Homo sapiens: one gene and its partners. The protein of the gene in region 2 purifies or fractionates together with the protein of the main gene of each other region. This does not show direct contact. Each region holds a gene or a part of one and is shown on either strand. Other genes may lie near its edges. The genes, in order: ACSL3, IFT140 and NTPCR.

What was found.
Region 1: the proteins of IFT140 (region 2) and ACSL3 purify together in Homo sapiens (affinity purification with mass spectrometry; one large-scale study listed by BioGRID and IntAct). This does not show direct contact.
Region 3: the proteins of IFT140 (region 2) and NTPCR purify together in Homo sapiens (affinity purification with mass spectrometry; one large-scale study listed by BioGRID and IntAct). This does not show direct contact.

What each region holds. Positions count from the first base shown.
Region 1 is NC_000002.12:222,930,485-222,934,135, forward strand, and holds part of ACSL3 (fatty acid CoA ligase Acsl3), read left to right. Parts: intron 1-136; coding exon 137-328; intron 329-2,681; coding exon 2,682-2,796; intron 2,797-3,651. UniProt on the Homo sapiens protein: Acyl-CoA synthetases (ACSL) activates long-chain fatty acids for both synthesis of cellular lipids, and degradation via beta-oxidation.
Region 2 is NC_000016.10:1,521,483-1,525,133, forward strand, and holds part of IFT140 (intraflagellar transport protein 140 homolog), read right to left. Parts: intron 3,435-3,651; coding exon 3,302-3,434; intron 3,214-3,301; coding exon 3,070-3,213; intron 2,475-3,069; coding exon 2,346-2,474; intron 2,219-2,345; coding exon 2,036-2,218; intron 1-2,035. UniProt on the Homo sapiens protein: Component of the IFT complex A (IFT-A), a complex required for retrograde ciliary transport and entry into cilia of G protein-coupled receptors (GPCRs).
Region 3 is NC_000001.11:232,970,965-232,974,615, reverse strand, and holds part of NTPCR (cancer-related nucleoside-triphosphatase), read right to left. Parts: intron 1-3,651. UniProt on the Homo sapiens protein: Has nucleotide phosphatase activity towards ATP, GTP, CTP, TTP and UTP. Hydrolyzes nucleoside diphosphates with lower efficiency.

The DNA of each region.
Region 1 (3,651 bases), on a different chromosome or scaffold from region 2:
CATTCATAGTGTCTGCCTTTTTTCCTTTGGGAAGTTCTAATTGGATTAAAATAAGATGACTGTTTAGAAACTAGTAGTTTCAAATTTTCATGTGTTGTATTTAACTCAACTATTAACTCAATTATTATTTTATTAGGTGGATACTTTAATACTGATAAGCCACACCCCAGGGGTGAAATTCTTATTGGGGGCCAAAGTGTGACAATGGGGTACTACAAAAATGAAGCAAAAACAAAAGCTGATTTCTTTGAAGATGAAAATGGACAAAGGTGGCTCTGTACTGGGGATATTGGAGAGTTTGAACCCGATGGATGCTTAAAGATTATTGGTAAGTCATCTAATATTTTTTTGAAAATGAATGTTTCTGAAATAGTTTACACAAGAAGCACAATATATTTAGAGGAGGCGCTGAATAATATAAATCTTTATGTAATCTTAGTTTGGGTTGTTGCATCACTCCTGGAATATAAAATATTACGGACTGTGGAATTTATGAGGCCTGACATGTTATGAGTTCTCAAAGATGGTTCAGCAGCAGTGGTATTTTAAATTACTCTTAGATAACCTTCAGTCATTGTTTCCTGCCTGTGTTTCTGACATCTAGAGATTAGTGGATGGAGCTCTCACAGTCTGAACTGCACCCTTGCCTTGCCCTGCCCAGGAGAATAGAGGAAAGCCAGGCAGCTCAAGTACTATGACTCATATGGGTTGAAAAATACCTTATTCTGCTTCTCCTTTTAGGTTCTTTTTTTTTAAAAGTTAATGGCATTTCAGTTAGCCGTGTGTGGTGTCTTTGTCGGGCACCTGTAATCCCAGCTACTTGGGAGGCCGAGGCAGGAGAATGGCATGAACCCGGGAGGCAGAGCTTGCAGCAAGCGGAGATCGCGACACTGCACTCCAACCTGGGCAACAGAGCAAGACTCTGTCTAAAAAAAAAAAAAAAGTTAATGGCATTTCTATCCCTGTCTTGCTAACTAGAAACCTGGGAGGAGACTCAAGACTGTTCTCTTCAGTCAGCTTCCCATGCCTATTTTATATCCCACTAGTTTATTTTATGAGCTATGTCTCAAAATCATACTCTTCTCTCTTTGTCTCTCTTACTTGATCATTGGTCAGGCCTGTACCTTCTGCCACCCTCTCCCAATAATTTCTCTGTTGCCATGTTTACCCCCTTAAACACACCCTCTCACTGCCACCATGTAATTACTAAACATGGATCTTACTGGCCACAACCATTTAATGTCTCCTAGAAGCTCAGTTCAGGGTGCCCCTGTTAACATTGTTCCCCTCTTCACCTTCATCGTCAGTTGTTTTCCTCCTCCTCCTTGATGCAGCTGAAATTAGAGCTGATGTTCTTCTGGCTTTTGCCAGTGTTGTTGCACCTGACCTCTCACTTTTCCCTTAGGACTCGGCTCAAGCAGCTGAGCATAGTGACTCAGGCCTGTAATCCCAGCTACTCGGGAGGCTGAGGTGGGAGTATCACAGGAGCCCAGGAGGCCGTGATTGTGCCACTGCACTCCAGTATGAGCAACAGAGTGAGACCCTGTCTCAAAATCTCAAAACCAACCAACCATCCAACCCTCAGCTCAGGCCTCACTTGCAAGAATTTTTTCCAAATCCCCAGGTTGGAGAGTCTTAACACTTAGCGCTACCATTGTAGTACCAATGTATTGAAGTAATACGTTTTTGCATTATGCATGTCTCCAGATAGGTTGTGAACTTGCAGATGGCATTGAATATCTTCTTCACCTGCCTGGTACTAATGGATACCAGAAATAAACCTGTTCAGAAGAACATACTTGAAGCCCTGCTAATGGAGTCCATTAAGTAGAAGTTAATTGTTTTTCTTTCTTTCTTTTTTTGAGATGTAGTCTTGCTCTGTCGCCCAGGCTGGAGTGCAGTGGCACCATCTCAGCTCACTGCAACCTCTGTCTCCTGGGTTCACGCAATTCTCCTGCCTCAGCCTCCTGAGTAGCTGGGATTACAGGTGTGCACCACCACGCCCAGCTAGTTTTCGTATTTTTAGTAGAGTCGGGGTTTCACCATGTTGGCCAGGCTGGTCTCGAACTCCTGACCTCAAGTGATGTGCCCGCCTCGGCCTCCCGAAGTGCTGGGATTACAGACATGAGCCACTGGACCTGGCCTGTTTTTCTTTTAAAAGCATGGGCCGGGCGCGGTGGCTCACGCCTGTAATCCCAGCACTTTGGGAGGCCGAGGCGGGTGGATCATGAGGTCAGGAGATCGAGACCATCCTGGCTAACAAGGTGAAACCCCGTCTCTACTAAAAATACAAAAAATTAGCCGGGCGCGGTGGCGGGCGCCTGTAGTCCCAGCTACTCGGGAGGCTGAGGCAGGAGAATGGCGTGAACCCGGGAAGCGGAGCTTGCAGTGAGCCGAGATTGCGCCACTGCAGTCCGCAGTCCAGCCTGGGCGACAGAGCGAGACTCCGTCTCAAAAAAAAAAAAAAAAAAAAAAAAGCATGTATTTAGCAGTACAAAAATTAGGGCCTAATTTTAATATGTGCTTTTAATTTCAGCATAACCATTAATGCTTAATTTTGCAAAGTTTTAAATAATTTGATAGCAAATTACTTAGAGAATGGCCAGTATTTATATATGTATTAAATGTTACTAATATTATTACTCATTGTTTTCCCCTCTCCACCTTTCTTTGTTTTGCAGATCGTAAAAAGGACCTTGTAAAACTACAGGCAGGGGAATATGTTTCTCTTGGGAAAGTAGAGGCAGCTTTGAAGAATCTTCCACTAGTAGATAACATTTGTGCATATGCAAACAGGTAAGAACGTGGAATTCATACTACTTTTACTTAAAATATTTGATGTCCATAGACATTTCCTACCTGTATGGACCTTCTTTGTAAAAATGTTCCGAGAACTCTTCCTATCTGTTACTTGTGGGAATGGCCTCCTTCTCATTGCAGCCATTAGCTGACTCTTTTCCTTGTAAGGCTTCCCCTGATCTTTCTCTCTGTCCCTGTTTTCTGCTTTACGTCTCACTGCAGTGTCCCATGGAGGGAGGTGAAGAAAATAAAACCTTCCTTCCTGCTGCCTTGGTACCCCTACCTACCTGTCCCTCAGCAGGGGAAGCTTCACAGAACTACTCCAGAGGAATGGGGAGTAAAGAAGTGGCAGTGAGGAGTGTGCTGCTTACTTACTCCTGCTCTACACTTGAGCCTGCTCGGCACTCCAGGCAGGTCTTGGGGCTCCTATGTAAGCTGTGTTAAGCTGCAGCCTAAACACACAGCCTCCCCACCTCATGATGATGAAGAGGCAGCTGGGGACCTGTCTACGACAGTTGACATGAATTATTATGGGAAAATAAAATCTGTTATCAGGAAAACTAATTTAGAAACAGATGTTGGGGGTACAGCCCAAGTTAGAAATGAATTGCATTTATTTATAAATGATTCTGGTCTTTAGCCATTTAGTATTTTCTTTAGTGATGATACAGATCTGGATTTATTCATGTGATAGTAACCAGAAGCATCTTCTTCCTGATGTTACTATTTTATGGCCTTCAAAAAAGTATTTGCCTTCGTTGGGCATAGTCAGAGTTCCTCTATCAATACAAATTCTGATGATAACAAAAGAAAAAAAAGAATATATTCACATCATTTTGATTCGTTGCTGAA
Region 2 (3,651 bases):
GGTTCAAGCCATTCTCCTGCCTCAGCCTACCAAGTAGCTGGGATTACAGGCGCCCGCCACCATGCCCGGCTAATTTTGTAATTTTTTTTAGTAGAGACAGGGTTTCTCCCTGTTGGTCAGGCTGGGCTCAAACTCCTGACCTCAGGTGATCCACCCACCTCGGCCTCCCAAAGTGCTGGGATTACAGGCGTGAGCCACCACACCCAGCCCTCATTTTAAGAAAAATTTTACATTCTTCACTTGAGAATATGTCTTAGGCCGGGCATGTTGGCTCATGCCTGTAATTCCAGCACTTTGGGAGGCCAAGGTGAGAGGATCACTTGGGCCTAGGAGTTTGAGACCAGCCTGGGCAACACAGTCAGACCCCCATCTCCACAAGAAAAAAAAACAGTAATAACCCACAAATATATATGAAGTAATAACACATTTATATTTAAAAAAAAAAAAAAAAAGAATATGGCTGAGCATGGTGGCTCACACCTGTAATCCCAGCACTTTGGGAGGCCGAGGTAGGTAAATCACCTGAGGTCAGGAGTTCGAGACCAGCCTGACCAACATGGAGAAACCCCGTCTCTACTAAAAATACAAAATTAGGCTGGATGCCATGGCTCATGCCTGTAATCTCAAGCACTTTGGGAGGCTGAGGAGGGTGGATCATGAGATCAGGAGATCGAGACCATCCTGGCCAACATGGTGAAACCTCGTCTCTACTAAACACAGAAAATTAACACAGGTGTGGTGGTGGGCGCCTGTAGTCCCAGCTACTCGGGAGGCTGAGGCAGGGGAATTGCTTGAACCCGGGAGGCTGAGGTTGCAGTAAGCCAAGATTGTGCCACTGGACTGCAGTCTGGGTGACAGAGAGAGACTCTGTCTCAAAATAAAAATAAAAATAAAAATACAAAATTAGCCGGGCGTGGTGGTGCATGCCTGTAATCCCAGCTACTGGGGAATCTGAGGCAGGAGAATCACTTGAACCCGGGAGGTGGAGGTTGCGGTGAGCTGAGATCGCCCCATTGCACTATAGCCTGGGCAACAAGAGTGAAACTCCATTTCAAAAAACAAAAAGAGAATATGTCGGCCAAGCATGGTGGCTCACGCCTGTAATCCCAGCAATTTGGGGGGCCGAGGCAGGCAGATCACGAGGTCAAGAGATCGAGACCATCCTGGCCAACGTGGTGGAACCCCATCTCTACTAAAATACAAAAATTAGCTGGGTGTGGTGGCAGGCACCTGTAGTCCCTGCTACTTGGGAGGCTGAAGCAGGAGAATCGCCTGAACCCAGGAAGTGGAGCTTGCAGTGAGCCGAGATTGCGCCACTGCACTCCAGCCTTTCCACCCTTAGTAGCCCAGTAAAAAATGGCATCTCCGTGAATTTTGATATGTATTTCTATCATGAATAAAGCTAAGCATTTTATATTTGGGAACCACCCATATTTCCATTTGAATAAACTGTTCCTGGCCAGTCACAGGGCTCACATCTACAGTCCCAGTGCTTTGGGAGGCTGAGGCAGGAGGATTGCTTGAGCCCAGGAGTTCAAGACCAGCCTGGGCAACACAGCAAGACCCTGAGTCTATGAAAAAAAATTTAAAAAATTAGCTGGGGATGGTGGCACACTCCTGTATTCCCGGCTACTCAGGAGGAAGGAGGATTGCTTGAGCCTGGGAAGTTGAGGCTGCAGTGAACCAAGATGGCACCACCACAGTCCAGCCTGGGCAACAGAGCGAGACCCTGTCTCAAAAAAAAAAAAAAAAAGGCTAAGATGGTAAATTTTGTGTTCTGTGTGTTTTTACCCCCCACCATAGGTGAGTGCACCATTCCCTGTGTATGATCAGATGCCAGCGTGAAGGATGGCGAGTCTACACTTGCGGACCTCCTGGGTGTGCCGTATGTGAAACCTAGGGCAGGGGGCACCCACCGCAGCCTTCCTGGAGAACTCATAACCAAGCAAGCAGCCATTCCCACAGCCTCTGGGGACAGGAGACCTGAGCCGTGGTGCCTGCGTGGAGCCGAGCCCAGGCCCCGCTGGCCCCGTACCTTCCTGGCAGCCAGCAGCAGCTCTACCGCCCTCTCGTACTGACTGTGCTCGATGAAGAAGTCGGAGCAGCGGGCCAGGAGCGCAGGGTCTGACGTCTCATCCAGGTCCTCTGCTATGAGCTGTAGGGCCACAAACTGCTGGGTGGCAAAGGCCAGCTCCAGGGCCTTGGAGAAGTGGCCAGCCTGCGGATACGGTGGGCTCTGAGCAGCTGCCCGAGGCCTGGGGGCCCGAGCACGGAGGCCTCGCACAGGCAAGGGCCCCCTGGCTTGCTGCCCCTCCCCCAGGTCCCCACCGGTGGCCAGCCCTCACCTTGTGGTACAGCATGACCGCCCTGTCCATCTGCACGCCCTTCTCCTCGTAGTATCGGGCCGCCTCGATCATGTCCTCGGGGGAGCTCAGCAGGGCCAAGTTCATGAGCTGGTCGTCCAGGCCGTTCTCCTGCAGGGAGGGAGGCAGGGCCCTGAAGCGGCTCCCACTGGCTTCCCCAGGTCCGCTGAGATTCTGGAATGTGGCCGGGTGCGAACCCGCCCCTTCACTTTGACACACTGCTCAGCGATCTCTGCGGTGATGGGTTTTAAGGAGCTGATGACTTACTGGGTTTGTCTACAAGGATTTTCCGATGCTCTGGGTTCTATTTCACAGAGCACTGCAAGAAATACCTGACACGGGAGATGCTTCTGGAAGCGAGAGCCCAGGTTGGGACATTTGTGTGGTGCAGAACGCCCAACAGCTATCTAGGAAGGGTCTGCCGTCTGCAAGGCCATAGGCCGTGAGCAGCCTCACCACCCACTCAGGAGCCCTGGAGCCTGGGAAACATCTGGGGACAATTCAGTGCTTTGCAAACAATGTCAGATGGAAGCGGCCAGGGGTGGGCAGAGGGGTGGGCGGGTGAGGCAGACGGGGTGAGCAGTGAGTGGCAGACACTGGCCGGACCACGTGTCACTGACACGATTCTCTCTGTCCACTTTTCCACTTGAAGCTCTCCTCAGGGGACCTCGAGAAGCGCCGGCTCCCCACCCCGGGCCCGTGGTACCTTGCACAGGCGGATGGCATTCTTGAAGGCCTGTGCCCGGGTGTAGAAGTGCACCGCCTGCCCGACCTCCTCCTGGCTCTCGTACTGGCGGGCGAGGTGGTAGGAGGCCGCCAGGTTTCCTGTCTCGTTGGCTATTTGCGCAGCCTAGAAAGACAAAGAACCCAAAGACGAGACACGGTGGCCTTGTGTCTGCCTCGTGTCCGCCTGGCCGGCTCCCCTGCGGGGACCTTACCTTCTGGACATTGCCCTGGAAGCAGTGGATGCGGACCAGGGAGAAGTGGTCCCGGGCCAGCTCGTAGTAGTGCAGCGCGGCGTCCATCTCGCCCTGGCTCTCCAGGTACTGCGCCCACCACCGCCACAGGGTCCTGCGGGCAGCCCAAGACCATGGATTCTCCACCCGAGCCCCGCTCCAACCCGGGACGGCCCCCACCCCGCCCCTGTGCCACCCTTAGAGTGCATGTCACCTGACCTGCAAACAGGCTGGGCCAAGAGTGAGGACCCCTGGCTTTGTCCAAAGGGAGGGCCTGGCTCAGGGCCCTGGCATGGCTCTGAGGAGCCGGGAGGACGCTGCCCACTCGTGCA
Region 3 (3,651 bases), on a different chromosome or scaffold from region 2:
GTAATAGGAGGTGCCAAAGATTGTATCAGTGAGATTTTATTTTCCTTCTCAGGTACTGTTCTTTCTTTTCTTTTTTCAGCTATTTTTTTTAACACATCAGAGAATGTTATCGTTTTGCCTCAACTGTCAAACATAATTCTTCAAAAGTCAACAGAGGAAGAAAAGCCCACTACACTCACTCAGAGTTTTACTCTTCCCATTGTTCTTTCTTCCTTCCTGATGTTCCAGGTCTCCTTTTACCATTTCCTTTCTGATAAGAGAACTTCCTTTGGCCATTCTTTTAGAGCAGTTCTATTATGACAAATTCTCTTAGTTTTCCTTCATCTGTGAATGTCTTATAGAATTATGAGTCGACAGTTGTTTCAACACTTGGAAAATGTACCACCTCCTTCTGGCCTTCATGGTTTCTCCTGAGAAATCTGCTGTCACTCATATTGTTTTTACCCTATAGGTAAGGTGCTGCTTTCCTTTCACTGCTTTCAAGACTTTAATTTTCATAAGTTTGACTATGGTATGTCTTGGCATGAATTTGAGTTTATCCTCTTGGGGTTCACTGAAAATGTAGGTTTATGTCTTTTGCCAAATATGACAAAAATGCAGCCATTACTTCTTCAAACACTTTTTCAACCCCACACTCATCTCCTGTTACTACAATGATGTGAATGTCACATCTTTTGTTATAGTCCCACAGGTCCCAGAAACTCTGTTCATTTTGTTCATTACTTTTTCTTTTAAGTCTGCTCTTTGTCAGGTAATTTCTATTGTTCTACCTTCAAGTTCACTGATTCTTTCTCCTGTCATCTCTATTCTGCTGATGAGCCCATTCAGTGACTTTTTTATTGGCTATTGTATAGTTCTAAAATTTTCATTTGATTCTTCTATCTTCTAGGTTTTTGCTGAAACTTTCCAGTTCTTGCTGAGACTATTTTTCATTTGTTTCATGTGTATCTGTAATTTTATGAAGCATTTTTATGATAGCTGTTTTCAAATCCTTGCCCTATAATTCCACTATCTGAGTCACCTTGCTGTTGAGATCTGCTGATGGCCTTTCCTCACTCAGGTTTAGGTATTCCTGATTCTTGGCATGACAAATGATTTTCAGTTGTGTCTGTTGTGTTGTTCCTTAGGTCCTTAGGTTCCTAGCCAGTCTGTCTTTTTCTCTTCACTTTTCAGGTCTTCTTATGCTTGTATTATAAATAACATCCTTAGCAGGAAAAATAAACACAAGTGTGTCTACTCTATCTTGTCTAAAACTGGAAGAGTTCTCGGGTGTTTTTGGAAAGTACTCTGTTCACCCAACGTTATGAAGAATAAGTCAAGATAATATTACTAATTTGTGTGGTATATTTCCCCCATATCATGAGCTCAGTCTCATCTTCACACTATGCATATTCATTGGAAAGTACTCTGTTCACCCAACATTGTGAAGAATAAGTCTAGATAATATTACTAATTCGTGTGGTACATTTCCCCCATATCACGGGCTCAGTCTCATCTTCACACTACGCATGTTCAGCTGGTAGCAAGGGGACGCTGACTCTGACCCCTTTTCATAGCTCATTTTCTTACCTGGAATGTTCTCCCTTCTTTTTCCCATTTCCTCCTTCAAGAGCCAACTCAAGAACCCCTTCCTTTGGACACCTCTCCACTACCACTGCTCACATAGATCTCTCCCTTCCCTGCCCCTAGATTTTGATTGCCCCATGGTCTGTTTTTCTTGAGGGCAGAGATCATGCCTCACAGGTGCCTAAACGATGGACTAAGTACTGAATGTGAAGGGCACTCTCAAAAATGGATTCGGATACTTTATTGCATGTGAGCAATGGAAAGAACCCAAAAATATATCTAATCCAACACCTAAGTTTGCAGATAAAGAAAATGAGGTTCTTGGCCAGGCACAGTGGCTCATGCCTATAATTCCAACACTTTGAGAGGCTGAGGCAGGCAGATTGTTTCAGCTCTTCAATTCGAGATCAACCCCGGGCAACATGGTGAAACCCCATCTCTACAAAAAATGCACAAATGAGTCAGGTGTGGTGGCACATGCCTGTAGTCCCAGCTTTTTGGGAGGCTGAGGTGGAGGATGGCTTCAGCCTAGGAGGCAGAGGATGCAGTGAGCCAAGAGCATGCCACTGCACTCCAGCATGGGCCACAGAGACTAACCTTGTCTCAGAAAAAAAGAAAATGAGGTTCTTGATTTATAAAACTGGAAAAGGCCAGGCACAGTGGCTCACACCTGTAATCCCAGCACAGATTACTCTGGGCAACAGAGCAAGACTCTGTCCCTCCCCCTCAAAAAAATAAGTTAAATAAAAAATAAAATAAAACTGAAACAGAAGGACCACACAAACCCCAAAGCAACAACAACAAAAAAAAACAGGGTATGTCAGCCCCTATCTCTTACTTAATTAACTCAAAGCTAATTGTTTTATTTACAGATCATTAGAAGCAATGATTATCTTGCCTGGAGAATAATTTTGAGTCTCAGAGAGCGGAAGAAATGTGGTATGATCCTAAGACACAAAGTCTGTTTCTGGGCATCACAGTCAGCTCCTTTCAATCCTTCCTTAGGACTGTTAGATTAGATTAGTTTGTGGAACTAGCCAATCCCTGGAGTCTAACACTAGCAATTTCCCGGTCTTCCAGCCTAGAAGCTATCTGACCTCAAAACTAATTTTCTTTCATGATCTTTCACTATTCATTGCCTTGATTTCCATGGAAACTCTATAATCACAACCAAAAATGTAAAATAAGAGAAGACGACATGAAACTCTGAAGAACCCCACAGACTTTTCAGGGCTCTCAAATGTCACCTCCTTGAAGAGACCTTCCCTGATCGCCCTTGCTACTCCTGCCCCCAACTACCACATTGCCTGGTTTCTTTATTTTTGCCTTTATCAGTATCTGAAATTGCTTAACTTATCTGTTCACATTTTTGGTATTCAGCTCCTCCATTAGAATGTAAGCTCCATGAAAGCAGCGCCTTGGTCAGTCTCGTTCACCACAGTATCCCAAGACTTAGAATGACACCTAGCATACAGTAGGTGCTCAATCACTATTGACCAAATGAAGGAATAAATAAATCAATAAAGAAGCGCATACATTTTTCCAAGTCTGGCTGGTCTAACCCTAATGGCTGTTTACCACCACACTCCAGGATTCTTGGTGGCAACATGTGGATACTCCAGGATTCTTTGGTGGCAACATGTGGATACTGCCAGTGGGCCAAGGTGACATTTCACTCAGTGATTAAAATGATCATGAGGAAGGTGCTCACGGGTACTCACTCTCCACTCCCCCTGATAGGAGTGGCCCTGCCTGCCTGACTTGTTCACTTGGCACTTGCAGGGCCAGGGAGCTTTTAAACTGGGGGTGGGGAGTGAGGTGTGTGAGCAGAGCTCAGCCAAGAGCACAGCTACCACTGACTCAAAGAAACTAAGGGTAGGGGTTGGGGAGAAGCAATATCTGACTGAGAGGAAAACAGAGGGACAACAGGGAAAGAAAGGCAAGAATTTAGACAAAGTGCCAGCAATGCCATGAGTCCCTTCCGACTGGCTCAGACGCTGCCACTGGTCAACAAGCCCTAGCCCCTCATCTCTCACATGTGGTCTACAGCAGTGCTTCTCAAAGTGCGGGGGACCTAAAAACCAC